Regions from separate parts of the Homo sapiens genome. Here region 2 is linked to region 1. Evidence: fine-mapped expression QTL. A gene starts in region 1. The other region holds a variant in brackets. All regions are shown on one strand. Distances are between the middles of the regions.

Region 1 (8,000 bases):
CTGCCCAAATCTCATGTGAAATGTAATCCCCAATGTTGGGGGTGGGACCTGGTGGGAGGTGATTGGATTATGGGGGCGAATCCTTCATGGCTTGATGCTGTCTTTGAGTTAGTGAGTCGAGAGCTGGTTGTTTTGGTTGTTTGAAAGTGTGGCACCTCCCCCAACCCTTGCTCCTGCTTTCACCGTGTGACATGCCTGCTCCCCCTTTGCCTTCTGCCACAATTATAAGCTTCTTGAAGCCTCCCTAGAAGCTGAGCAAATGCCAGCACCATGCTTCCCGTAAATCCTGAAGAACTGTGAGCCAATTAAACCTCTTTTCTTTATAAATTATCCAGTCTCACATATTTCTTTATAGAAATGCAAGAACAGTCTCATACACCTGAACTGAGTAGGAGGTAACTAGGGGGAGGAGGGGGACAAGTGGGGATAGGGCAATCTAGCCAGAGGAAGGAGCAGGAACAGAGGGAAGGGGGTAGAAAAGAGTCAGTTGGATGCAGAAAATAGTAAGCAGTTCAGAGTGCGAGAAGCGCAGAGTGTGGGGAGGGTGGAGAGAGGGGAGATCTAGGTCACACTGGGTCTCATAAGCCATGACATGAAGTTCAGGCCTTATGCTGAGGGCAGTAGGAAACTATTGAAGTATTTTAAGCAGGGAGCTGTATGATATCCTTTGCAGTTTAGAAAGATGTTGGTGGAGAATGGGTGGGGAGATAGGTGAGGCTGAATGCTGCAAAGTCTTAGAGCTAGAAGGACCTTGGACAAGGGAAAGGGAGCTACTATTTGTTGAACACTTGCTGTATGCCAAGCACTGCGCTGGATGCCTCACTCACATAGCTCATTTATTCTCACAAATAACTCATTGGGTTTTTATTATTGTCCTCATTGGATAGGTGATTAAACTGAGGCCTAAATAGGGAAATGACTTGTCCAAAGTCAAACAGACAGCATCCTACCACATACAGGATGTGGAGCTTGAGGGGATCATTGGAGGACAGATGTGAGGCTTTCAGAATCCCTGAGGGTAGAATCCTCATGCTGAGAGAGCCAGAGCACATCCAGCTTCTCGGTCCATGACAGTGTGCTTACCCCATTTGCAGGATTTCCTGCTTGCACGACCTCATGCCTAATACCTGTGATTAGGCATAACAATTCCTACTGCACAGGGCTGATGAGAGGAAAAAGCAAGCCAGTAGGTAGTACCTGGCTTGGCCTAGAGGTGATGGTCAGTAAATGGGAACTTCTTCTCTTCTACCTTTCTCTTTCCACTTGGCTGTAAAAAGGTTGTTTTTTCCACTCATCCCACATGTGTATACCTGTGCGACGTTGGGCAAATTACCCAACTTCTTTGAGTTTGATTTCCTTATCTTTAAAATTGGGATAAGAATAGTACTTATCTTATAGAACTGCTGCGGGAATGTAATGAGTTAATATCATGTGAAGCACTTAGAAAAGGGGATGCAGTAAGCAGGTAATAAATATTAGCTATTATTATTATTATTATCTCTATCACTGTCCACTAGTCTATTGGTGCTTCAGGTGAATATCCACAGAGCAAGTCTACTCTCTCTTCCACGAACCCACCCTGTTCACTGGCCTTGGCTCAGCTTCTTCTCAGGGAATGGATCCTCTATGTGTTGTTTTTCTCCTGAGCCATCTAGTGACTCAGAGAAGGGCCAGGTTTCCTCAATCAGAAGTTTAGGCCTGAAGTACTATCTGGTCCCAGCACTGGGCTCTGCTGTTCCCCCCTACCCCACCCATCCTTGTCCCTGGAACAAATACTGGGATACCCACCTTTGATGTTGATGATGCTGATCTCCCCAAAGTAGAGCCCTGCACCGAGCACAGCATACTGTGTGATACCATCATCTGCCACCACGGCCAGTTGACCCTCTCGGATGATGTACATCTCTTGGCCAATGTCTCCTTTGCGGCATACATATTCACCTGGTGAGTAGGTCTGGGGCTGCAGCTTCAGCACCAGCTCCTCCAGCAGGCTGGCCTCACAGTTCTGAAAGATCTGCACCCGGCTCAGAGTGGACAGGTGCACAGACACAGCCACTTCTGCCCGCAGCCGCTCAGGCAAGTGCTGTAAGATGGCTACCTCGTTGGTCATCTTCTTGTTGATCTGCAGGTGCTGATACCTGAGAGTAAGGACAGTGCCATTTCCTTACCAGCCCTTTATGTGCCTGCCTCCATCCCTTCCTTCAGGGCTCAGCTCAGCTCCAGCCAAGAATCCCACCATACTGAGATCTAACAGGGGTCATGGGAGTACCTGACAGTTGGATTACCTGTTTTCCAGGGCATAGACACCTCTACCACTTTACATAACCCTTCACCTCCTATCAGGCTCTACCCTACCCACCAATCAGTGATGTCTTGTTCCACCCCTACCCTTAGCTACCTCAGCCACCAAGGGCCCCTCCTCTCTGGGGACCCTCTGCTCTACTTCCCCAACTTTGTGACACTTCCTTTTGTTCAGTCCACAGTATGAATCACCATAGGTAGCCAATGATCTTGTTGCTGACCATTCTCAGGGGGGATTGCCCTTCTTCACCCACTCCTTCCAGAGCCTTCTGAGCCCTACCAGGCAGTGGCACTTCCCATTCCCTGGTCTCCATATTATCCTTTTTTGAGTATGAGCTCCTCTCCCTATCAGTCTCTTACCTACCCCTCCCCCAAGTCCTGATTCCCTCAGTTGAAAGAAGTTCCCTTTTTCCAAGCCCCAGCCAGCAAACCCACGGCTGAATGCTACATTTTGACAGCCTTGCCTGGCTCACCAGGCACTAAGGACCCAGTTACCTCCCTCAGGTTCCATCACCTACACTGGTCCCTGTCCTGGTCTGGAACCCCGCCTTCTCACCAGTCAATAACTCGCCGCTCCAGCTTGCGGTTGACGTGCTGCAGCTTCATGTACTTCTTCACCAGTGCATGATCTGGGTAGAAAGCCGCATCTGCAGTGTTCATGTTGTAGATGACAGAGCTCATGCTACCCATGATGGTGGCGAAACCCATGACGGCCAGCAGGAAGTCGCCCACCATGAAGAGGTACTCTTCTTCCCTGGCTGGCGGCGGTGTATCGCCCACTGTAGTCAGTATCAGCGTGGAGAAGTAAAAGCTATAGAGGTACTGGCGCCGCAGGCGCTCAAAGCCAGGCTGCGCGGGGTCCGGGTACACCCATGCGTCACGCCCGAAGCCCAGGTACCGGGATAGGGCAAAGTATAGGCAGCTGTTCCAATGGATGACGACAAAAATGTAAAGCATCAGCTTGGCAATGCGAAAGGCATTTGGGTAAGCTGTGCGGGTCTCTGTGCGGTCGAAGGCCTCGAAGAGGCGGGGCGCGCGGAGAAAGCGGTTCAGCCTCAGGGTGGGTGTGTGCGGGCCCAGCCGCACGTAGACCACATCTGTGGGCATCAGGGAAGCCAGGTCCAAGAAGAAACTCCAGGTGCGAACGTAGCGACTCGAGATCCTACCCTTGTCCACCACCAGGATGCCCTGTTCCAAGAATCCTGGGGAGAGGGAGCCGGTAGGAAGCGGACCTGCTGTAGTCAAGCTTGGGCTGAGCATGAGCTGCCCAGGGCAGGCCAGGGAGACTGTCTGAAGGACAGAGTGGAGCCAGGCATAACTCTGCTCCCGGCTTTCCGGGGTGAGCACTGGGATGCTGTCAGGCATAGAGGCACGCGAAGGTGCTACCACGGTGGGGGTGCCTTTCTTGTTACTTCTTAAGTGGCTATCTTTAGGAAGGGAATGTGGGACAAAGGGTCATTCCTAGAAGCCCACTGACCTGTGTGGAAGCGCACCACCATGTCTAGTAGGTATAGCAGGTCACTCGTGTAGTCCAGCACCAACCAGGCCACCAGATAACCGTGCTGCAAGTCGGGGAAGCAGGCTCTGCAGGGCAGGGTTAAGCATGATTGAATTAAGGGCACCCTCTGTGTGCGAGGCGTCTCCCCAGGGCCCTTAACCCTCTGCCTCAGGCCCTCCCATGGGAATTGCTCCTCCTGCCCCACCAAGGGTCTGCCCTTCTCCTTGACCTCTCTTTAGTCCTCTTTTTGGCTTCCAGCCCCTCCCTTAGCACCGCTGCCATACCTGCACACGAGGATGATGAGGTTATACATGACTGGGAAGACCATTGTGTTCAGCCACCAGTAGTAGTAATCCCCAGATGGGTCCAGGACAGGCAGCAACTTCCTGTAAGAAAGAAAGTCTTGCTTCATTTATTCACCAGGCATTCAAAGCTGTAGTTGTGACTGGGGCACCAAGAGGAATGAGGAGAGATCCCACACAAGGGACCAGGACTTCTCACCTGGCCTTGGATGGGGCTGGGGGACTGGACTCTGTTGTCTTCACTTTGGTGTCCTGGCTCATGGTTCTGTGGTCTGGTGCTGGGGTGTGAGATGTCCACACCCTCTCTGCCTGTAGGGGACTTCTGGAGTTGGGCACTAGTGCCTGACTGCCTGAAGGAGGCTGCTGTTGGGCTTCTGCTGTGACTTCTTTGTCTTTGGGGCTCTTAGCAACACAACCAGAGCTAGCGCTACTGAAGGGGTGGAGACAGTCTAGCTCTAGCACTCTGCCCTGTCTCCCAGGGCCTGGGCTTACACCTGCCCAGCTAAACACCTCTAATGAGATCCCTGGAGAAGGTGGGGGTGCATGCCTCAGAGGGAAGCCTGAGTCTTGTCTCTGTTTTCCTCCTCCCCTCTTTCCACAGCAACTGAGCTACATAGGTGTCCTCTGGGTCAGAAGACCTCAGTTTTAGTGTAGGATCAAACACTCTGTTTTATCTTTGCAAATTCTATTTGGGCCTCACTATTTATTTATTTAACAACTATTACTGAATGGCTTATCTATGTCAGGTGCTAAACTATTCTCCAGGGACAAAGAGATGCCTCTCACATGAGAAGTGAGCTCTATTTTTGTAACCTACTTCCTACCCTTATCTACCTCCACATACGCCTTCCCCCATCACACCATTCTCATAGGTAGTGTGATAGGGGCCATCCTATGGTGCTTTTGTCCTCATATCCTTCTTGTGACTTCTAGTGCCTGATCCTACCAACCATTCCATGTGTTTTATGGTCCCCAATCTTTCAACTTTTCTCTTTTTGTGAACCTGCTTCAATATCTCCTATATCAAAACAAACAAAAACCCTACAATTTCTCCCTCAACCTGATGTTCCTTTCACTGCTATCATCTTTCTCAGTCAACAAATCAAAATCAGAACACCCATAGGCAGGTGTTCTGTGTGCCAGGCCAATATTGTGCTAAATACTAGGAATTGGAGATGAATAAGACACGCTCCCCCTTCTCCAGAAGCTCACAGTCTGCTAGGTGAAATAGTCAGGCCAGCAGGTAATTACACATGAGGTAACTAAACAGCAGCAGTCATTGCCAGGCTGCTGATGAGTACTCTGTTAGCTGGATACACGGAAGGCTATTATAGTACACATGAAGTGGCCCTACAGAGCCTGGGTTCTGCAGGATGAATAGGAGTTGGGTACAGAGATGGGAGGGTGAAGAGCACTAGAGGCAGAATGCACAGAGTGGGCAAAGGCATAGAGATATCAAAAAGCGTGGGTGACTGGGCAAATATCAATTGGCTTATTTTAGAGGGCCTAGCGGGTAGTGGTGAGAGATGAGGTTGAATGATAGACAGAGGCCAGCTCAGGAGGAGTTCTGTCAGCCATGTTATAAAGCTTGGATTTTACCCAACGGCAATAGAGAACCTGTGAAGAGTTTTTCACAGTTCAGTGATAAAATCAGGTTTGTGTTTTTGGAGTGTGTTTTAGAAGAAAAACCTGTGGTCCCTAATTAAATTTTGAAAAACTCTCTTTTCCCATGGCTTCTTAATTTCTTTTTGCAAAGTATTACGCTTGTTAAAATAAAAAGACAACATTCAAAGTAATGCAACAAAATGAATAAAATCCTTTGTAATGCCATAATGTCTTGGTTTGCTGTTTCTTTTTAGTGTCTTTCATAAGCTCCTCTGTCTATTCCTTCTATGATGGTGTTTTTTTTTTTTCTTGGATTCTGTTCTAGGCTTTCTACTTTTGCCATCCTCCTAACTCTGTCTGATTGACGTCAGTCACCCACAGGACTTCCTTTCTCATATAGTGGCTCCCGAGAACTCTCCCTGAGTTTCAGTTATCTATATGACTAACTGCTCACTGGATGTTCCTACTTGGGTATCCCGCGGTCACCTTCAACCCATTGGGTCTATAACTAAGCTCATTATCTTCCTCCACTTTTTCTTCTAGAATTCCTATCTATGCCCTTTCAGCAAAAAAACCTATGACAAGCATTTATTACTATTTACTGTATAATGTTGTGGCAGTTAAAAAAAATGGTCACAAATTCTTCGACACCACTCCCTTGTGATAGTTTGTATAGCAGGAGTGATGTTGTGTGACTTCTAAGGCTAGATCATAAAAGGCCATGCAGCTTCCCTCTGGTTCTCTTGGAATGCGTGTTGTCTGGTAGCTCCCTCTCAGAATGTTCCCTCTTGGAACCTACCCATCACATTGTGAGAAGTTCTGTTTGACAGTTTGCCCAATGAGTTCAGCTTTTTCATTATCCCAGCCCAGGAATTAGATGTGTGACTGAAGAAGCCTCCAGATGCTTCCAGCCACCAGCCTCAAACCACCTCTAGATGTTCAAGCTTTACAAATAAGGCCCCAGACATCATGGAATAGAGACAAGCCATTCCTGTTGCATCTCGTCCAAATTCCCAGAATTTGTGCACATAATAAAATGGCTATTGTTTTTATGACACTAAGTTTGGGTTGGTTTGTCACATAGCATAGTAACCAGAACAAACAAACACAGAGAAAGGTGTACAATCCTTAAGTATATAGCTTAATACATTTTCACAAAGTGAACACACCCATATAACCAAGCACTCAGATCAAGAAACAGAACATCACCAGTGCCTCAGGAGCCCCACTCTGCCCCTTTCAGTCAATGTTTTTCCAAGAATAATCACTATCCTGAATTCTAATATCACAGTTTAGTTTTACCTGTTTTTGAATTTATATAAACTAAGCATTAGTTTTTAATTCTTCCTCTTATTTTCCTCTTATATCCACCCAATCATCAAACCATGGTGATCTACCTTCTAAAAATCCACATGTCCACTTCTCTGCATTTTTGCTACTCTAGTTTGGGCCTTATCAGCTTGTTTGGTCTTTTGCAAAGTTACTGTATAACTATCAATCTATGTATAAAATTCTTTATAGCTATCATCCCAAAAATAAAATCTAAATTCCTTAACATGGTTTATAAAGTTCTCCAGTCCATGTCTTCAGCCTCATCTCACAATGTTTCCTCACATGTTCCCTAGGCTCCCGACACACTGTACTGATTGCAGTTCTTACAGCACCTCCCACATGCTGTCCATTCTTCCTTTCCCTGGTATATGCTGATCCTTTGGTCTGAAACTTCTATTTCTTTTTAAATACTTTTTATTTGAACTAATTTTAGGCTTACAGAAAAGTTGCAAAAATAATACAGAGTTCTCATAAATTCCTTATCCATCTTCCCCTAACGTTATGATCTTACATAACTATAGCACAATGATAAAAACCAGGTATTTAACATTGGCAAAATACTTTTCTTTTTTTCTTTTCTTTTTTTTTTTTTGAGACGGAGTCTCGCCCTGTCGCCCAGGCTGGAATGCAGTGGTGCGATCTCGGCTAACTGCAACCTCCGCCTCCCGGGTTCAAGCGATTCTCCTGCCCCAGCCTCCCAAGCAGCTGGGATTACAGGCGCGCGCCACTACGCCCAGTTAATTTTTGTATTTGTAGTAGGGACGGGGTTTCACTATGTTGGTCAGGCTGGTCTCGAACTCTTGACCTCGTGATCCGCCCGCCTCGGCCTCTCAAAGTGCTGGGATTACAGGCGTGAGCCACCGCGCCCAGCCGGTAAAGTACTTTTAAAACTACATGCCTTATCTGAAACTTCTATTTTTCTATTTTAGTTTATCTTACTCTTGCTTGTTTCCCAAGACTCG
Region 2 (16,041 bases), 80 kb before region 1:
GAGATCTTCCATCCATTTGGATATTTTGATTTCTGGAGTCAGTACAAATTCACTTCCTGATGCCTCAAACTTATAGCTATTGTAACTGCCAGGGGCACAGAGCTCCCTCATTGTGTGGAATGGTTTTACCTCTTCCGTAGACAGGATGTCTATGACAAAGGGTGGAAGGTAGTGCCTGTCTACTGAGGCACATTGCCTGTTAAATGAGTGGTCTGTCTGTGCCTCACATTGTTACTTTTGATTTAAAGGTTAGTGCCTGGAGGATGCATCAGTTTTTCTGGGCAGATGAAAGTGAGGGTCCTGGTCAGGGATATTTCTTTGGTAATGAGCTCACATAGATGTCTCTCATCCTTTCTTAGATTTTGATTTTTCTATTTAATAATCAAAGACTGTTAAGCTCTATTGCTATGTAAGACAAAGGGTTCCAATTCACAAAACCACTCAGCAACCTCTGTCGAGTCTCTCCTCTAGTACTATTATTCCCCTCCAGTAATCAGCCAGCAATTGTTTTTCAAAAGCAGTACAATTCTCAGCTGCTAAAAGCATTCCTTAGTCAAAAATCCTAAATACTTATGCTGTATTTTCCCCTGTAGGATCTGCCCTCCTCCCTCCCTGACAAATCATCTTGGTGGAAGAGGTAGAAATCACAGAGACTTCAGGGTCTCATTTTTCTTTCTGACTTGTAGGACCCAAAGGATAGAATTGACCATACTGTGGCTTGTAACTTGCCAGGGTTAGTCACTGAGGCTTCTCTCAATCCTACTGAAAGTATGTAGCCTTTTGGAGGACTCAAGATATAGAGTGTGTGAAAATTCCAAGGTGAAGCATTTGCTGACTCTAACACCTCCCTCTGTTCTTTGTTGCAGTAGGAGGTGTTACATGTTTCACTACCTGTCCTGAGTTTAAGCACTACTATTCTAGGTAATCCCTGTCTGCTGGATTTCTGGTGGATGGTCTCTGAACCCAGTGGGACAGACTCATCCTCTTGGGTATGATGTGAAGAATGGCAGTGCCTTTGTCACTTTTGTTTTAGGGGATCTTGGCAACTTCATATAGTGGGGCACCTGGCAACTGAAAGAAGAAGGAAAACAAAGATGCAGAATGATACCATCTAAGGCACTATGATCTGATCTGTCTTTTTCAGAGATTTCCTTAAAGCGAAAGGAGCATCCAGCTGTTCTTGAATAGGTAGAGACAGAGGGCCACCCTTAAGCAGATCTTTGTTAGGCAGATATATTTCAGACAGCCCCAGGCCTGATGAAAGGTGTAGTGGATTTGTTTCTCCTTAGTACAGCCAACTCTTCCTCATAGTAGGCTGTGCTCTGGGGAGGGGATGGGCCAGTATATAAATGGAACCCTTGACAAACAGGATGGGTAATACCTTTTAGTTTTTTAAAGCAGTTGTTAGCTCAACTACCATAGTATTCCACTCATTTTTGCAAGACTCATTACATCTGGGCAACTATTGGTTTGTCTGTGTTCTACTGTGAGTCTTCAGGTTTTATTAACTTTTCCTACAGAGACTCTAATACTTTCACATAATTGGGGAAGCCATTTGCAGGAGCATCCTGGGTAATGGGATACTGTAATACTGATATTGATTAATCAAAGTTGTTATTAGTTTTCCAGAGCTACCAAAACAAAAAAAGTCACAAACTAGGTGGCTTAAAACAACAGAACTTTGCTGGGTGCAGTGGCTTACACCTGTAATCCTAGCACTTTGGGAGGCCAAGGCAGGTGGATCACTGGAGGTCAGGAGTTTGAGACCAGCCTGGCCAACATGGTGAAACCCTGTCTTGTCTTTACTACAAATACAAAAATTAGCCAAGTGTGATGGCGGGCACCTGTAGTCCCAGCTCATCAGGAGGCTGAGGCAGGAGAATCACTCAAACCCGGGAGGCAGACGTTGCAGTGAGCTGAGATCATGCCATTGCACTGCAGCCTGGGCGACAAGAGCAAGACTCTGTCTCAAAAACACCAACACCAATGCCAGAAACCCCATAAATTTATTCTGTCATGGTTGTGGAGGGCAGAAGCCTGAAATCAAGGTGTTGGCAGGGGCATGTTCCTTCTGAAGCTCCTAGGGAAGGATCCTCCCTTGCCTGTTTCGGTTTCTGGGGCATTCCTTGGTTTGTGGCAGCTAACTCCAATCTCTGCCTCTGTTGTCACATGGTGTTCTCCCTGTGTATCTCTTCCCTCTCTTATAAGGACACCAGTCATATTGGATTAAGGGCCTACTCTACTTCATTATGGCCTCATCTTAATTATATTTGCAAGATTATATTTCCAAGTAAGGTCATATTCATAGGCACCAGGGGTTAGGACTTAAATATATCTTTTTGGGGACACAAGCAACCTGCGACAATAAGTTTCCACTTTTCATGTCCATACCATGGGGTATGAGAGAGTAGATGCCAGCCACACCCCTAGTTTAGAGAATTTTTTTTTTTTTTTGAGACGGAATTTCACCCCTGTTGCCCAGGCTGGAGGGCAACGGCACAATCTCAGCTCACCACAACCTCTGCCTCCTGGGTTCAAGTAATTCTCCCATCTCAGCCTCCCGAGTAGCTGGGATTGCAGGCATGTGCCACCATCTCTGGCTAATTTTGTATTTTTAGTAGAGACGGGGTTTCTCCATGTTGGTCAGGCTGGTCTCAAACTCCCGACCTCAGGTGATCCGCCCACCCTGGCCTCCCAAAGTGCTGGGATGACAGGTGTGAGCCACCGCATCTGGCTAAGAATAGAAATTTTTAAGACCACTGCCTTAGAGGTGTTATAAAGTTTTTTAATTGGGAAGCCATCAGGCTGAGATGGCTCCACCACATTTGATTCCTACATAAGCAAACCAAAGCCCAATGTAAAAAGTAAAAGAAAACTAGGGACCTTACCAATCAGAAACCACCAACTAACCTCTAACTAGGGGAATTTCCATATTAATGAATCAAATATATTTTCTTTGTCTTACTTCCATGTTCAGCCTATAAAAGCTCACTGCCCACACTGCTGCAGCTGAGCTCTCTGAACCTCTTTTGGCCTTGAGTGCAGCCTAATTTATGAATTGTTCTTAGCTCAAATAAACCCTTTAAAATTTTAAGGTTCGTAAGTTTATTTTTGAACAGAGGGCATCATTCTGCATCTTTCTTTGTTTTCTTCTTTTCTTACCCTTTTTGGAAACTGCAATACAGTTCTTCCTTGGATACTTTATAATCAAGGTCACTCTACTACAATTTCTGTCAATCTCTGCATTATTGACTCAGGCATTCTTCTAGCTGGCCCCAAGTTATTTTTACTTACCTCATGGCTTCCATTTTCCACTATCAGCCAGTTCATATGGCTTTTAAACTTGAGGCTTTGGGGAGACTGGTAGAACCATCATTGGCTTTATTGTTAAGTTTAAGGTCCTCCTTGTTCCAGATATCCAGAGAGGGAGTTAGTGCTACAGGAGATGGAAAAAAATTAGGCAGATAGTGAGGGCAAAAGAGTCCTCAGCAGAATTTCCCTTTTAACAAAAATCAGCCCCCAAATCATTTCTTTTCTAACAAAGAACAGCCTGAAAAATCAAGCTGCAAACATAGATAAGCAAGCTGGAAGCCTGCAGGGGTGAATGCCAGCAGCTGTGTCAATAGAAAAGGGCTACCTGGGGGCCAGGTATGTTCAACATGGAGGCTCCATCTTCCCTTTTCTTTGTCACCACAGTTACAGTAAAGAAACAGGCAACATGGCACTGGCCAGGTAGAGAACCCATCTGCAAAATAAAAGATTAGGGTGGGGGTGGCCATCTTTTTGTGCCTATACAAATGGCATACCTAGCCCTAACCAGTTTTTTGAGCTGTATGCAAATGACACACCTGGTCCAACCAATCTTTTGTGCCCTATGTAAATGACACACTGCCTCCTTAAGGTCATCTATAAAATCCCTTGCATTCCACGGTGGAACCAGCAACCCATTTCTCTGGGACCCCTCTCTGCTGCAGAGAGCTCTTCTTTTTCTTTTGCCTATTCAACTTCTGCTCTGAACCTCTTTGTGTGTCCATGTCCTAGTTTTCCATAGCTGTGACACAACCAATCTCGGGTATTTACTCCAGACAACAATGCCACTTCATTACCAGGTTTTAAAAAAATATCTGTCTATGCTGGGCGCGGTGGCTCACGCCTGTAATCCCAGCACTTTGGGAGGCCAAGGTGGGCGGATCATGGGGTCAGGAGTTCAAGACCAGCCTGACCAACATGGTGAAATCCTGCCTCTACTAAAATTACAAAAATTAGCTGGGCGTGGTCACGCGTGCCTGTAATCCCAGCTACTCAGGAGGCTGAGGCAGGGGAATTGCTTGAACCTGGGAGGCGGAGGTTGCAGTGAGCCAAGATCGCGCGTTTGCACTCCAGCCTGGGTGACAGAGCGAGACTTGGTCTCAGGAAAAAAAAAAAAAATCTATCCAAATCTATCCAAGTATCTATGCAAGTACTTCTTACTTCCAAATGCACTGAATTTCCTTAGCCCCACTCATCAAAGCTGGTGATTCTTTCATAGGCTTCCTGTAATATTAATATCCATTCCCAGTAGTACCCAGATTTTTGTACAGATATCCACTTTTCCTCCCATACCACCCTAATACTCCTGGGGAAGCTGAATCTACTCTACTTCAGAATTGATCTAACTTGTCAAAAGCCAATTATTAGATTTCTTGTCAGTGATTGTTTAGGGAACATAGGCCTAAACCCATCAATGCATGTCATTTTTGTAGCCATAGAATTTGGATTTGGAAAAGCCATGTAACCCAGTGGAAGGCAAGTGTAAAAATTCTGGGAGGCTTCTGGGAAATAAATGTCCTAAATTTTAAGATGGTCCCCTTTTTTTTTTAAGATCTTGTGCAGAGTTGTGAGGCCTGGAATGAAGCTGACACCTGTGCGTATGTGGGCACATACACATGGGTAGGGGGTGTGTGGGGGACATGGGGGAGTGTGAGAGGTGCGGGATGGGGCTCATAGTTGAGCAGTGGAGAGAACTGTAGAAAACCAGATTTGGAGCTGTGAATGACTCACACTTAATCACCACTCTACCAATCCTCTTTTTCAATTATGTTTGAATTGAGTTTCCTGTTACTAAGTACTGTTTGAATTGAGTTTTTGTTCCCTCAGTCTGAAAGCATTTTAACTGGTACATCCCTGATGGATCTCTCTGGGTAAATGTAGTTTCACTGGAAGAGATGGTGATTCCCACCAGATTCCCAAGAGAGCTTATTTTCTCTTGTATTAAGCAGCAGGGGTCAGGCTTATGGCCTTGTATTTGTAGAAATCAGCCATCAGCTTAGCATCACCAGATTTCTGGCATTAGCTGCCCACGTCTGTGGCACTTCAGGCCCATGTAACTATTTCCAGAGTGACACAAGTTTCTTCCACAGTTGTCAACAAGTGGCCCTCACAGGTTCAGTGAGAAGAGGAAGAGGGAGAGAGATCATCAGGATTAATGGATTACTTGCATTTGTGAGACGGTTTGCCAAGTATTGCTACAAACAAGGCACGGGATTTTCTTTTTTCTTTTCTTTTTTTTTTGAGATGGAGTCTTGCTCTGTCCTCCAGGCTGTAGTGCAGTGGAGCAATCTTGGTTTACTGCATTCTCTGCCTCCCAGGTTCAAACGATTCTTCTGCCTCAGCCCTCCCGAGTAGCTGGGATTACAGGCGTGTGTCACAACGCCCTGCTAATTTTTGTATTTTTAGTAGAGACGGGGTTTTGCCATGTTGCCCAGGCTGGTCTGGAACTCCCTGCCTCACGTGATCCTCCCCCCTCGGCCTCCCAAAGTGGTGGGATTACAAGCATGAGCCACCGCGCCCGGCTAAGGCATGGGATGTTTCGAACTGCTGACATTAGAAATTCACAATCCACATCATTAACTGGATCCTCCATGCCCACTCTCTCCCTCTCTGCAGCAGCAATTTCAAATCTTTACTCTCCGCAGTTCCACAGAACACAAGAAACAAACAAACAAGCAAAAAAAGTCAGGCAGGAGCCCAAGTAACCTCTATCAAAGCAAAGACCAGTGCCTAGTCTAACGCTTTTAAGGATTTTAAAAGAGGTGAAGGTGTCCTGCTTATCCTCCAAGCTTGGGTGCTGGGGCCGGGGCGGCTGAGATTTACCAGTGAAACCCAAAGAAAGAGAGGGCAGAAAACTAGAGAAAAGAAACCAGATAATGCTACCCAAGAGGACGAAATAAAGAAGCAGGAAACGAAGCCTGAGGCTAAACCCTGGAGATGACTATTAGGAAAACACCAGAGGATGCCCCGCCCGCCAGCCCACAATGAGCAGCCTGTCCAAGTCACAAAGCGGGGCCTCGGGCCTTGACAGTTCGCGATCTGTAAGCAGAATGTTCCAGGGCCTCCCTGTCGCCTGCATCCAGCCTGGGGGCAATCTTCACTGGTGTGGGAGGCCGAAAGTGGACGGCGACGGAGGCCCCTCTGGTTATCTCTTTGCCGTGCCAACACAGTCTCTGCGCCCACTAAGATGCATGAAATAAAAATTTCCGTGACTCGCCCTTTGCAGTGGAGAACTGAAACAGGCACACCAGGGAATTGGAGCGGAGGAGGGTAACTCAAACTCAGAGTGAGAGGGTTTGCAGGGGGCCGATTTGGGGCCAACAGGCTTCCCAGCAGGCCCCCGGCGCGGGACAGCGGAAGGCGAAACGCTTTCAAGAGACCCCGCTGCCAACATCCCCACGCCCTCGCGCCCTCCCGCCGCCCCAGAAGGCCAACTCCGCCTGCCTGAGTCACAGCTGGAGCTGGGGAGGAGCCAGGGAAAGGAGGCCCCTGACCGTAGTGCGGCCAGCAGTTGCAGGCAGACGGAGCAGAGCGGTCAGGGATCATGAGGGAGAGTGCGTTGGAGCGGGGGCCTGTGCCCGAGGCGCCGGCGGGGGGTCCCGTGCACGCCGTGACGGTGGTGACCCTGCTGGAGAAGCTGGCCTCCATGCTGGAGACTCTGCGGGAGCGGCAGGGAGGCCTGGCTCGAAGGCAGGGAGGCCTGGCAGGGTCCGTGCGCCGCATCCAGAGCGGCCTGGGCGCTCTGAGTCGCAGCCACGACACCACCAGCAACACCTTGGCGCAGCTGCTGGCCAAGGCGGAGCGCGTGAGCTCGCACGCCAACGCCGCCCAAGAGCGCGCGGTGCGCCGCGCAGCCCAGGTGCAGCGGCTGGAGGCCAACCACGGGCTGCTGGTGGCGCGCGGGAAGCTCCACGTTCTGCTCTTCAAGGTCAGTGACCTCAAACGGTCCCCAATCCGAGGCCTTTGCCGGCCTGTGGGCCACCAGCTGGGGGCTCCCCGCTTCCATCCACCTACCACACCCACATTCCTGACCCCTCCCGCCGTCTGTTGCTGTGGAACAGACTCACAGAGCCGCACCCACTTCCCAAGACCCAGCCCCATCCCTCCCTCTCACGCCTGAGCCCCGCCTGGCCAATCCAAGCCCGCCCAGCTCTAGCTCAGGCCACGTCCGCAGAATTTGGTCTGAGTCCCAGCCAATCCCTAAAATAACGGTGGTTGAAAGGGCATTCCGTGACTGCGGGCACTATCCTCTTCTCGCCCCTCACCAGGCCTCACCTACTTTACAGCGTTTTGCAGTTCGCACGCAGCTTTCCCTCCCCTTACCTTCCCACGCCTGCCTTTCCCCCCAGACTCTGGCTGCGGAGGTAAAAGGTTTCCCTTGTGTAATTAAGGAGTGAGTTTCGGGCTGCTGGGGGTAAGGAGCTGCCAGGATCAGTGCTGTGTCCGTCACATGCAGGAGGAGGGTGAAGTCCCAGCCAGCGCTTTCCAGAAGGCACCAGAGCCCTTGGGCCCGGCGGACCAGTCCGAGCTGGGCCCAGAGCAGC[T/C]GGAGGCCGAAGTTGGAGAGAGCTCGGACGAGGAGCCGGTGGAGTCCAGGGCCCAGCGGCTGCGGCGCACCGGATTGCAGAAGGTACAGAGCCTCCGAAGGGCCCTTTCGGGCCGGAAAGGCCCTGCAGCGCCACCGCCCACCCCGGTCAAGCCGCCTCGCCTTGGGCCTGGCCGGAGCGCTGAAGCCCAGCCGGAAGCCCAGCCTGCGCTGGAGCCCACGCTGGAGCCAGAGCCTCCGCAGGACACCGAGGAAGATCCCGGGAGACCTGGGGCTGCCGAAGAAGCTCTGCTCCAAATGGAGAGTGTAGCCTGAGGGCTGGTGTTGCCTGCCTCCCCTGTGCTTGTGCCTTGTCCCAAAATAAATCCTTTCAGAATGTAGCACTCACGCCCTAATAAGGAGCGAATCCTACATCCACCAAGGCGGGCGCTCTGGCCCTCCCTTCCTTAAGCCCAGTCCTGTGTCCTCTGAAAGAGGTGCAGTCACTCACACCTGCTTGCGCTCACCATCAATAAAAGTAATTTCACCCGAACCAGACTCCGTGAGAAGGGATGGGGAAGCGGTTGGATGTGGGAAGGCAGTTACAAGGAATAAGACAAATGTTGGAACCTGGAATCGTACAATTTCTCCAGTTTCCACGGAGTCCTGGGTTCTAGCCTCCAGTGACACATAGAAATATCCTTCTGACCACTTGCTCTTTAAACACTTTCCTCATGGGAACACACAGTTGCAGTTTTTGTTGTTGTTGTTTTTGTGTGAGTGTGTGTGTGTGTTTTTTTTTTTAGCATCCAGTATAGTCCTTGCTGTAGGTGCTTACTCAGTGTCAACTAATGGTTTTCCTCTTAGTCTTTTCTTTCCTTGGCACCTCCTAAAAGTTGAGTTTTCCAGGATTCCTTTCTTGGCCCTCTTTTTACTCAGGGTACTTTTCGGTTGACATTCATGCCTAGGCCTCCCCTACCAGCTGCGTACACCCCATACCACTGTCTTGAGCCACAGTTGAAAAGTGCTTCAAAAGTAGCAAGTATCTTCTACCTTTTAAATTCCATTTCGTTCAACAGCTATTTATTGAACACCTACTATGTGGCAGGCCCTACTAGGTATGGTTCAGAATATTTCCCCCTCTTGTGTTTTCTTTACCAATGATGACAAAAAAAATCAATATACCATCATCCACAGAGAAACTTGGGAGTCCTTGTCGGCTCAAGGACTTTCTCTCATCCCCCTCCCACATGGAAACAGCTATTCTAATGATTTTACCTCTGCAATCTGTCCACTTTTCTAATACAGCCGCTGCCTTATTTCAGGCCTTTCACTTGACCGGTATTTGAACTGCCAATCTCATCACATCATTCTTGATTCAAATATTTCAGTGTCTCCCCATTATCTTCAGAATAAAGACCAAGCTCTTTATAATTATTTTCAAGGCCCTTTGTGATCTGGTCCCTGCCTATTTTTGTAGCCTCATCTCTCACCACTTCCCCTTGTGCTACCATTGAGTCACACTGAGCTCTGTGCTCTCACTGTCATCCCTGCTATCCTGCCAAACTCAGTAAAGCACACCTGTTTCAGGGCCAGGTATTTCTCTTCCTTCTCTCAAAGCACCACTTGCACACCTCTAGTGCTAACTGCACTGATTGTGAGGATTTGTGGTTACGCCCCCTCCGATCTACTAGATTGTGACTCTCTTGCAGTAGGGACAGTTTTATTAATTTCTGTATTTCCCACACCAAATACTGTGTCTGGCACACGGTAGACCTTCTTGAGGGGCTGAGGAGAGTTCCCTGCTGCAGTAAAGCAAGAATATTACAGAAGGGGCTGGGCACGGTGGCTCATGCCTGTAATCTTAGCACTTTGGGAGGCCAAGGTGGGTGGAGGACTTGACCTTGGGAGCTCAAATCCAGCCTTGGCAAAATGATGAAACCCCATTTCTACAAAAATTACAAAAATTAGCTGGATGTGGTGGCTTGTGCCTGTAGTCCCAGCTACTTGGGGGGCTGAGGTGGGAGGATCACTTGAGCTCAGGAGGCAGGGGTTGCAGTAAGCCAAGATCATGCCACCGCCCTCCAGCCTGGGTGACAGAATGAGACCATGTTTCAAAAAAAAAAAAAAAGGAAAAACAAAAAACTGGAAGTGGGAGTGGTGGTTAAGGATGAGGAGCACAGTCACCTACTCCTTCATTCAGTCACTATCATATAACAACGTTTTTAATACCTACTTTGTTCCAGGCCCTATGCTAGGTCTCATGAACACCTTGGGGAGCTCGGGATTTAGAGGGAGATACCATCACCAATTGTAATGAATGATGGTTACATGTAAGTTATTTTGAGAGCAAATGGGGAAGGGGCATGACCCAACCTGAAGGAGGAAAAGTGGGAGATATATAAGGAATTGTTCTTGGAAATGGTAAATAGTGAGATGGAAAACAGGAATGGCAAGGGGCAGTAGAGCTCAGCGGTGGGTAGTTTGGGTTCTCTGTTCCCTTATCTATAAAATGAGATAATTATAGCCCCTTACTTAGATTGTTGGAAAGATTAAGTGACATAAATCAAGTGCCCAGCACATTGCCGGAGTATAGTTTTTGCTCCATAAGCTTCAGGTATATAATTTATTTGTCCACTCATTCAACAAATAACTTACTGAACTCTTAGGGTCTTCCAGGTGCTATTTTAAAATCTGAGAATACTGCCAGGCGTGGTGGCTCACATCTGTAATCCCAGCCCTTTGGGAGGCTGAGGCGGGCAGATCGCTTGACTCCAGGAGTTTGAGACCAGCCTGGCCAACGTGGCGAAACCCCGTCTGTACTAAAAATACCCAAAAAGTTAGCCAGATGTGGTGGTGCACACTTGTAGTCCCAGCTACTTGGGAGGCTGAGGCACCAGAATTGCTTAAGTCTAGGGGGCAGAGGCTGCAGATTGCACCACTGCACTCCACCCTGGGCAACAGGGCGACAGTCTGTCTCAAAAAATAAAATAATAACAAATAAAGTAAATAAAATAAAATCTGAGGATACAGTGGCACATAAGAAAGAGAAGATCCATACCTCTATAGAGTTAAATTCCAGTAGGAAGAGACAGGTAATAAATAAGTAAACATGTAAGCCAGATAAAACAAGTAAGCACATGAACCACAAGGGCATTCTGGTTATGAGCTCTGAAGAAAAAGAAAACAGACTAAGGATACAGATAAGGTTTGTGGGGGTGTTCTTTAGATAAGGACACTGGGGAGTAATATTGGGACCAGAGTTACACGTATGAATTACTCCTTGACACTTGAGTTTGAGTGGTGTCACATTTTTATTTTCATGGATTCAATAAGAAGAGTTTAAGCCCCCACATGCCTGCCATGCTGTTGGGAAGTTGATGATTAGCAATTTTAGTTATCTTCCCGTTTTCGAGACTGTGCAGTACCAGGGGGCTCATACCATCTCTCAGCCTTTGCATGTCTCTGCTGCCCTTGCTCCTTATGACCACACGATGTCAGTGTCGGGGAGCCAGTGTCCTCGTTGGTGCCTCCTCTAATTACCCGGAGGTCAGCCTGACCGGCAATATATTGGGGACAGTTAGGGTAGAGGAGGTGTAGCGGGCAGGGGTCCTTCCATGGAAGGCGGCTCTGCAGTAGCTCCATTTGGTCTGGGGAAATTCAACCCTTCTCCTGCAGGCTCCCAACCCTGGTGCTCAGACTGTGCCCCTTTCAAGGTTTGGCCGTCTCAATGGGACTGGTATGAGCAGACTCAGTTCTCTGTCCCCAAGGAAAAATAAATTCTTGTTTTTTCAAATTCCTGGAAATCTACTTGATTTTCCCCTTTCAACCCACAATTAGAATTAAGAACTAAGTGTGCATTTTCCGTATAAAACATCTTGACCCCTAGAAACCCAAAGGCTTGACTAATTTTGCAAGGGAAGGGTATATTAATGTTTATTTCTTCCTGAGTTGTCTATAGCAGCAAATAATAAGATCAAGTTAAAACAAAATTAGTTAAATTTCTTCATAGCTCATTTTGTTATATTATGTTCTCCATTATCACTGCTGGTTGTTATTATTAATATTGTTAAACATTAATGGCCAGGTGCAGTGGTTCATGCCTGTAATCCTAGCCTTTTGGGAGGCTGATGTGAGTGGATAGCTTGAGGCCAGGAGTTCAAGACCATCCTGGGTAACATGGTGAAACCCTGTCTCTACAAAAAAGTTTAAAAAAAAATTAGTTGGGCATGGGGGCACACCTGTAGTCCTAGCTACTTGGGAGGCTGAGGTGGGAAGATTGCTTGAGCCCAGGATTTTAAGGTTGCAGTGAGTTATGATCATGGCACTATACTCCAGCCTGGGTGACAGAATGAGACCTTGCCTTTAAAAAAGTAAAATAAAGGAAGTGGAGACAATGACAGAATACCAACTTGTCATCCAGCACATGTGGCATTTAGCAGCTATTTAAGCAGACGGAAGGTACATTAGTGGATCATTAACATTCACTTTGGCTTTCAACTTTTCAGGCCAGAAACACAAATTTATCTTGCATTCCAGCAAGATTAGGCTGATCTGCAATAACTGCACTCAGAAAACACTGATTAATTTGATTGCTGGATTCATTAATTTCCCGAAGAAATCTAATGGCCAAGTGACTGGAATAGTCTAGCTAGCTATTCAAAACATTTTTCATCCTTCAACAAAGTCTACATGGGAAGCCAAAGTAAGATCTTAAACTAGGTATAATGCAATAGAATAGTAGAAACTGGATAAAGATAATGGGCAGGATAATCTAACATAATATGCCCACTTTCTGCTTTGACATGCCTCTTACATGGGCAAAAATATATACATTCCTGGCAGGAAACTTCTTCCCTAGTTAAGAACTAGACGTCCTTTTGATTTTCCTTTATTGTGAGCAGAGGAATCATATAACCTCAGCATTGAAGAGAACGCGAATGCTGTCTATTCCACAAGCATTTCCAACACTAAAGTGTTCTGTACTGTCTTGACATCTATCCTTGTGGTTTCAGATATTTCTTAGTTTCATCAAAGGCAGACAGAGTTTGCATTCATGGTCTCTTTTCTATTTTAGAATTATTTTTAACATGATGGTGGAAAGCACAGTCTTTATTCAGTCATTTTAAAACAAGAGTCCAACAATCATCCCCTACCCCCGGTCCTGTGAGATTGAGCTTAATTATTCTGATAGTTATTTTCTTTAATCCATAACCTGTGTCTTAAGCATGGACATTTTGTTAGGAAGTCTGGTTTATTAGAGAAGATAGGTTTGAGATGATCCCCTATTATGAGTCATATTGTTTCTGGACTTCTATAGATCTTCCTCTCTCCAACACAGAATGAAGACAGAGCAGTCCAACCCAATTTAAACAACTCCTTTTATTTCACAGAGACTCATGGACTAGACCATTCTAAAGTAATGTGGATTATTAAATGTAGCATTAATTTTATGATATCATTATTACTTCCTGTATTCTTTATGTATTTACATGCCTGGTTTATTCTGATTTCTTTACCCACTTTCCCCAACAGTCTACCTGTTTTGCCCTAACCTTTAGATATCTCTAAATCTGGCTAGTCAAAATGTATTTTAATACTCTTAAACTTAAAAAAAATTACAAATGTACCCTTCTTATGTTTGCATACCATTTGAAATTGTTAACATCTGTGTTGACCAACTCTCCGAATGTTTGATTCAGTTAACTTGATCATTATTCCATAATTTTGTAAAGCTAATTTGAAAGATACATATCTTACTTTTTAGTATGATTTCCCTTCTCCTACCTTTCATTTTTAGAATAGTTATGAATTCATGGCTCTTTTTAAAGACTGAATTGGTATCAATTGCTGGCTGGTAGGTTTTCTCCTGATGCTTACCTGTCACTTCTTGGTATATGGGAGCTCTTTTCAACGTGTTTTTTTTTTTTTTTTGCTATGATTTGAGTGTGTCTCCAAAAATTCATGTGTTGGAAATGTAGTCCCCATTGCAACAGTTTTGGGAGGGAAATGAGGCCTAATGGGAGTTGTTTAGGTCATGAGAACTCTGACCTGTCAACCTAAATAACAAATGGAGAGGAAGACTCTCTAGAAGAAAATGATGTTTATTTGGGAATAGGCGTTACAATGGGAATGTGTATGTCTTCCACAGTAAATTATGTATATATTCAGGAGGTAAAGGAAGACAAAGGTTTTTAAAGGAAAAATGAGGAGGATTATATAATTGTTCTGAGATAATTATTGTTGACTACAAGGATTAATAACAAAGGTGGTGCCAGTCCAAGATTGGACAGAGAGTTGCTAGGCAGATGTCCTCTCAGAAGCATTATTATTATTATTATTTTTGAGATGGAGTTTCGCTCTTTTGCCCAGACTGGAGTGCAATGGTGTGATCTCAGCTCATCGCAACCTCTGCCTCCTGGGTTCAAGCAATTCTTCTGCCTCAGCCTCCTGAGTAGCTGAGATTACAGGCACGCATCACCATGCCCGGCTAATTTTGTATTTTTAGTAGAGATGGGGTTTCTCCATGTTGGTCAGGCTGGTCTCGAACTCCCGACCTCAGATGATCTGCCTGCCTCGGCCTCCCAAAGTGCTGGGATTACAGGCATGAGCCACCGCGCCCGGCCAGAAGCATTTTTTTTTATGTGTAAAGTTGTGATGGCTTTTGTGCAGGCTGTGGTTTTGCAAAGTCTTTTGTGATATCAAGAATTCGTGCACAAGAATCCCTCCTTCATACCCTTCCTCAGCTCTATTTGTCAGGGTTTTTAACACAAGTGACTCCATTTTGATTTTGACAATTTTCATAGCCCTCATGAATGGATTAATGCTGCTATAAAAAGTGCTTGTGGGAGTGGGTTTACCCCTTTCTGCCTTCCACCATGTGAGGACATAACAAGAAAGTCCTCACTAGATGACAGAACTTTGATCTTGGACTTTATAGACTCCAGAACTGTGAGAAACAAATTTCTGTTCTTTATAAAGTACTGAATCTCAGGTATTCTGTTATAGCAGCACAAAACAGACTAAGCTTTTTTGTCTTTTTTTTTTCTTAAATACTTGAATCATCTATGGAGGTATTCTTGTTTTCTTGTTACAACAGTCTATTCCATACTTATCTTGATTTTCTAGTATGTGGCCCAAGTTATCTGGTGATACCTTCTGTGGCAAACCAGCATAAGACCCAAGTCTGATTATTGAGTAGATTATTTCCCATGCTTCCACTGCGGGCAGGGTGACATCAACAGCTGCTTCAAATGTTCTTATGACAATCAGAGTCTTTTAGAATCATGAGTTTATTCTGATTTTTTTTTTTCTTCTTAATCGAGACAGAGTCTCACTCTGTTGTCCAGGCTGGAGTGCAGTGGCACAATTTTGGCTCACTGCAACCTCCGCCTCCCAGGTTCAAGAGATTCTCCTGCCTCAGCCTCCCAGGTAGCTGGGATTACAGGTGCATACCAGGACGCCCAGCTAATTTTTGTATTTTTAGTAGAGACTAAGTTTTGCCATATTGGCTGGTCTTGAACTCCTGACCTCAAGTGATCTGCCTGCTTGGGTCTCCCAAAATGTTGGGATTACAGCTGTGAACCACCGCGACCAGCCTTATTCTGATGTTTTTAACTTCAAATTCTTCCTTACTTTAACTCTTTCAAGTTATTTTTCTTTTTTCAAAGCAACTATTGTTTACTCTAATACAACATCCTTTCACAATCTTTGATAAGCCAATATTATTCTCAGATCAAACCATTTGCTTATTATATTCTTGTTTAAAACATTAGAAACTTGTTATTTCTTTTTAAAAACATAATTTTACTTTATCCAAGCATATTACAAAAGAATACCCATTTTGGGCTTTAGGGAGAACTGATATATTCTATAACATGGTAAAAATGCATAAGAATGCATGGGTATAGCAAATATTGTGTGTAGTATAATAAATATGTATTATGTTCCCTCCTCCTATTGTTTAAGCAACTTAAAATTGATTTTATAGAATATAGATCCAAACAGGGTTTCAGCATCATCTGAACATAACAAAAATCTCTCTGAAAATTAAAGGAAAATATAACCTCATCCAGGGTAATACTCTTTGCATAGGTTAAAATATGCCTTTTCCATATTCCCAAATGCATTTTTTATAATAATTTGCATGATTATATAAGCCAGAGATAAAACATGTGGCCATCTTTAAAAATTAAGGTCTAGACACAGCT

Evidence for each region. PIP is the estimated chance that this variant, and not a neighbour inherited with it, causes the effect.
Region 2: its variant is fine-mapped to the expression of CNGA4 in tibial artery (GTEx, PIP 0.97).

Annotation. Positions count from the first base shown.
Region 1 is chr11:6,235,569-6,243,568 of GRCh38, reverse strand. CNGA4 (cyclic nucleotide gated channel subunit alpha 4) reads right to left here and starts at 4,480. Exons shown (of 6, transcript NM_001037329.4): 1 at 4,301-4,480; 2 at 4,084-4,185; 3 at 3,779-3,885; 4 at 2,858-3,503; 5 at 1,789-2,138. The coding sequence starts at 4,362. RefSeq lists an enhancer at 7,996-8,000.
Region 2 is chr11:6,311,289-6,327,329 of GRCh38, reverse strand. It overlaps CAVIN3 (caveolae associated protein 3), which reads left to right and starts at 6,829. Exons shown (of 2, transcript NM_145040.3): 1 at 6,829-7,237; 2 at 7,766-8,384. The coding sequence starts at 6,854. The coding sequence ends at 8,167. It overlaps LOC101927825 (a long non-coding RNA gene), which reads right to left and starts at 8,189. Exons shown (of 7, transcript XR_930998.4): 1 at 7,633-8,189; 2 at 3,638-3,745; 3 at 3,295-3,436. RefSeq lists enhancers at 6,063-6,152, 6,183-6,242, 6,253-6,612, 6,823-6,872, 7,416-8,153. The variant T/C (reference allele first, on the strand shown) is at 7,854.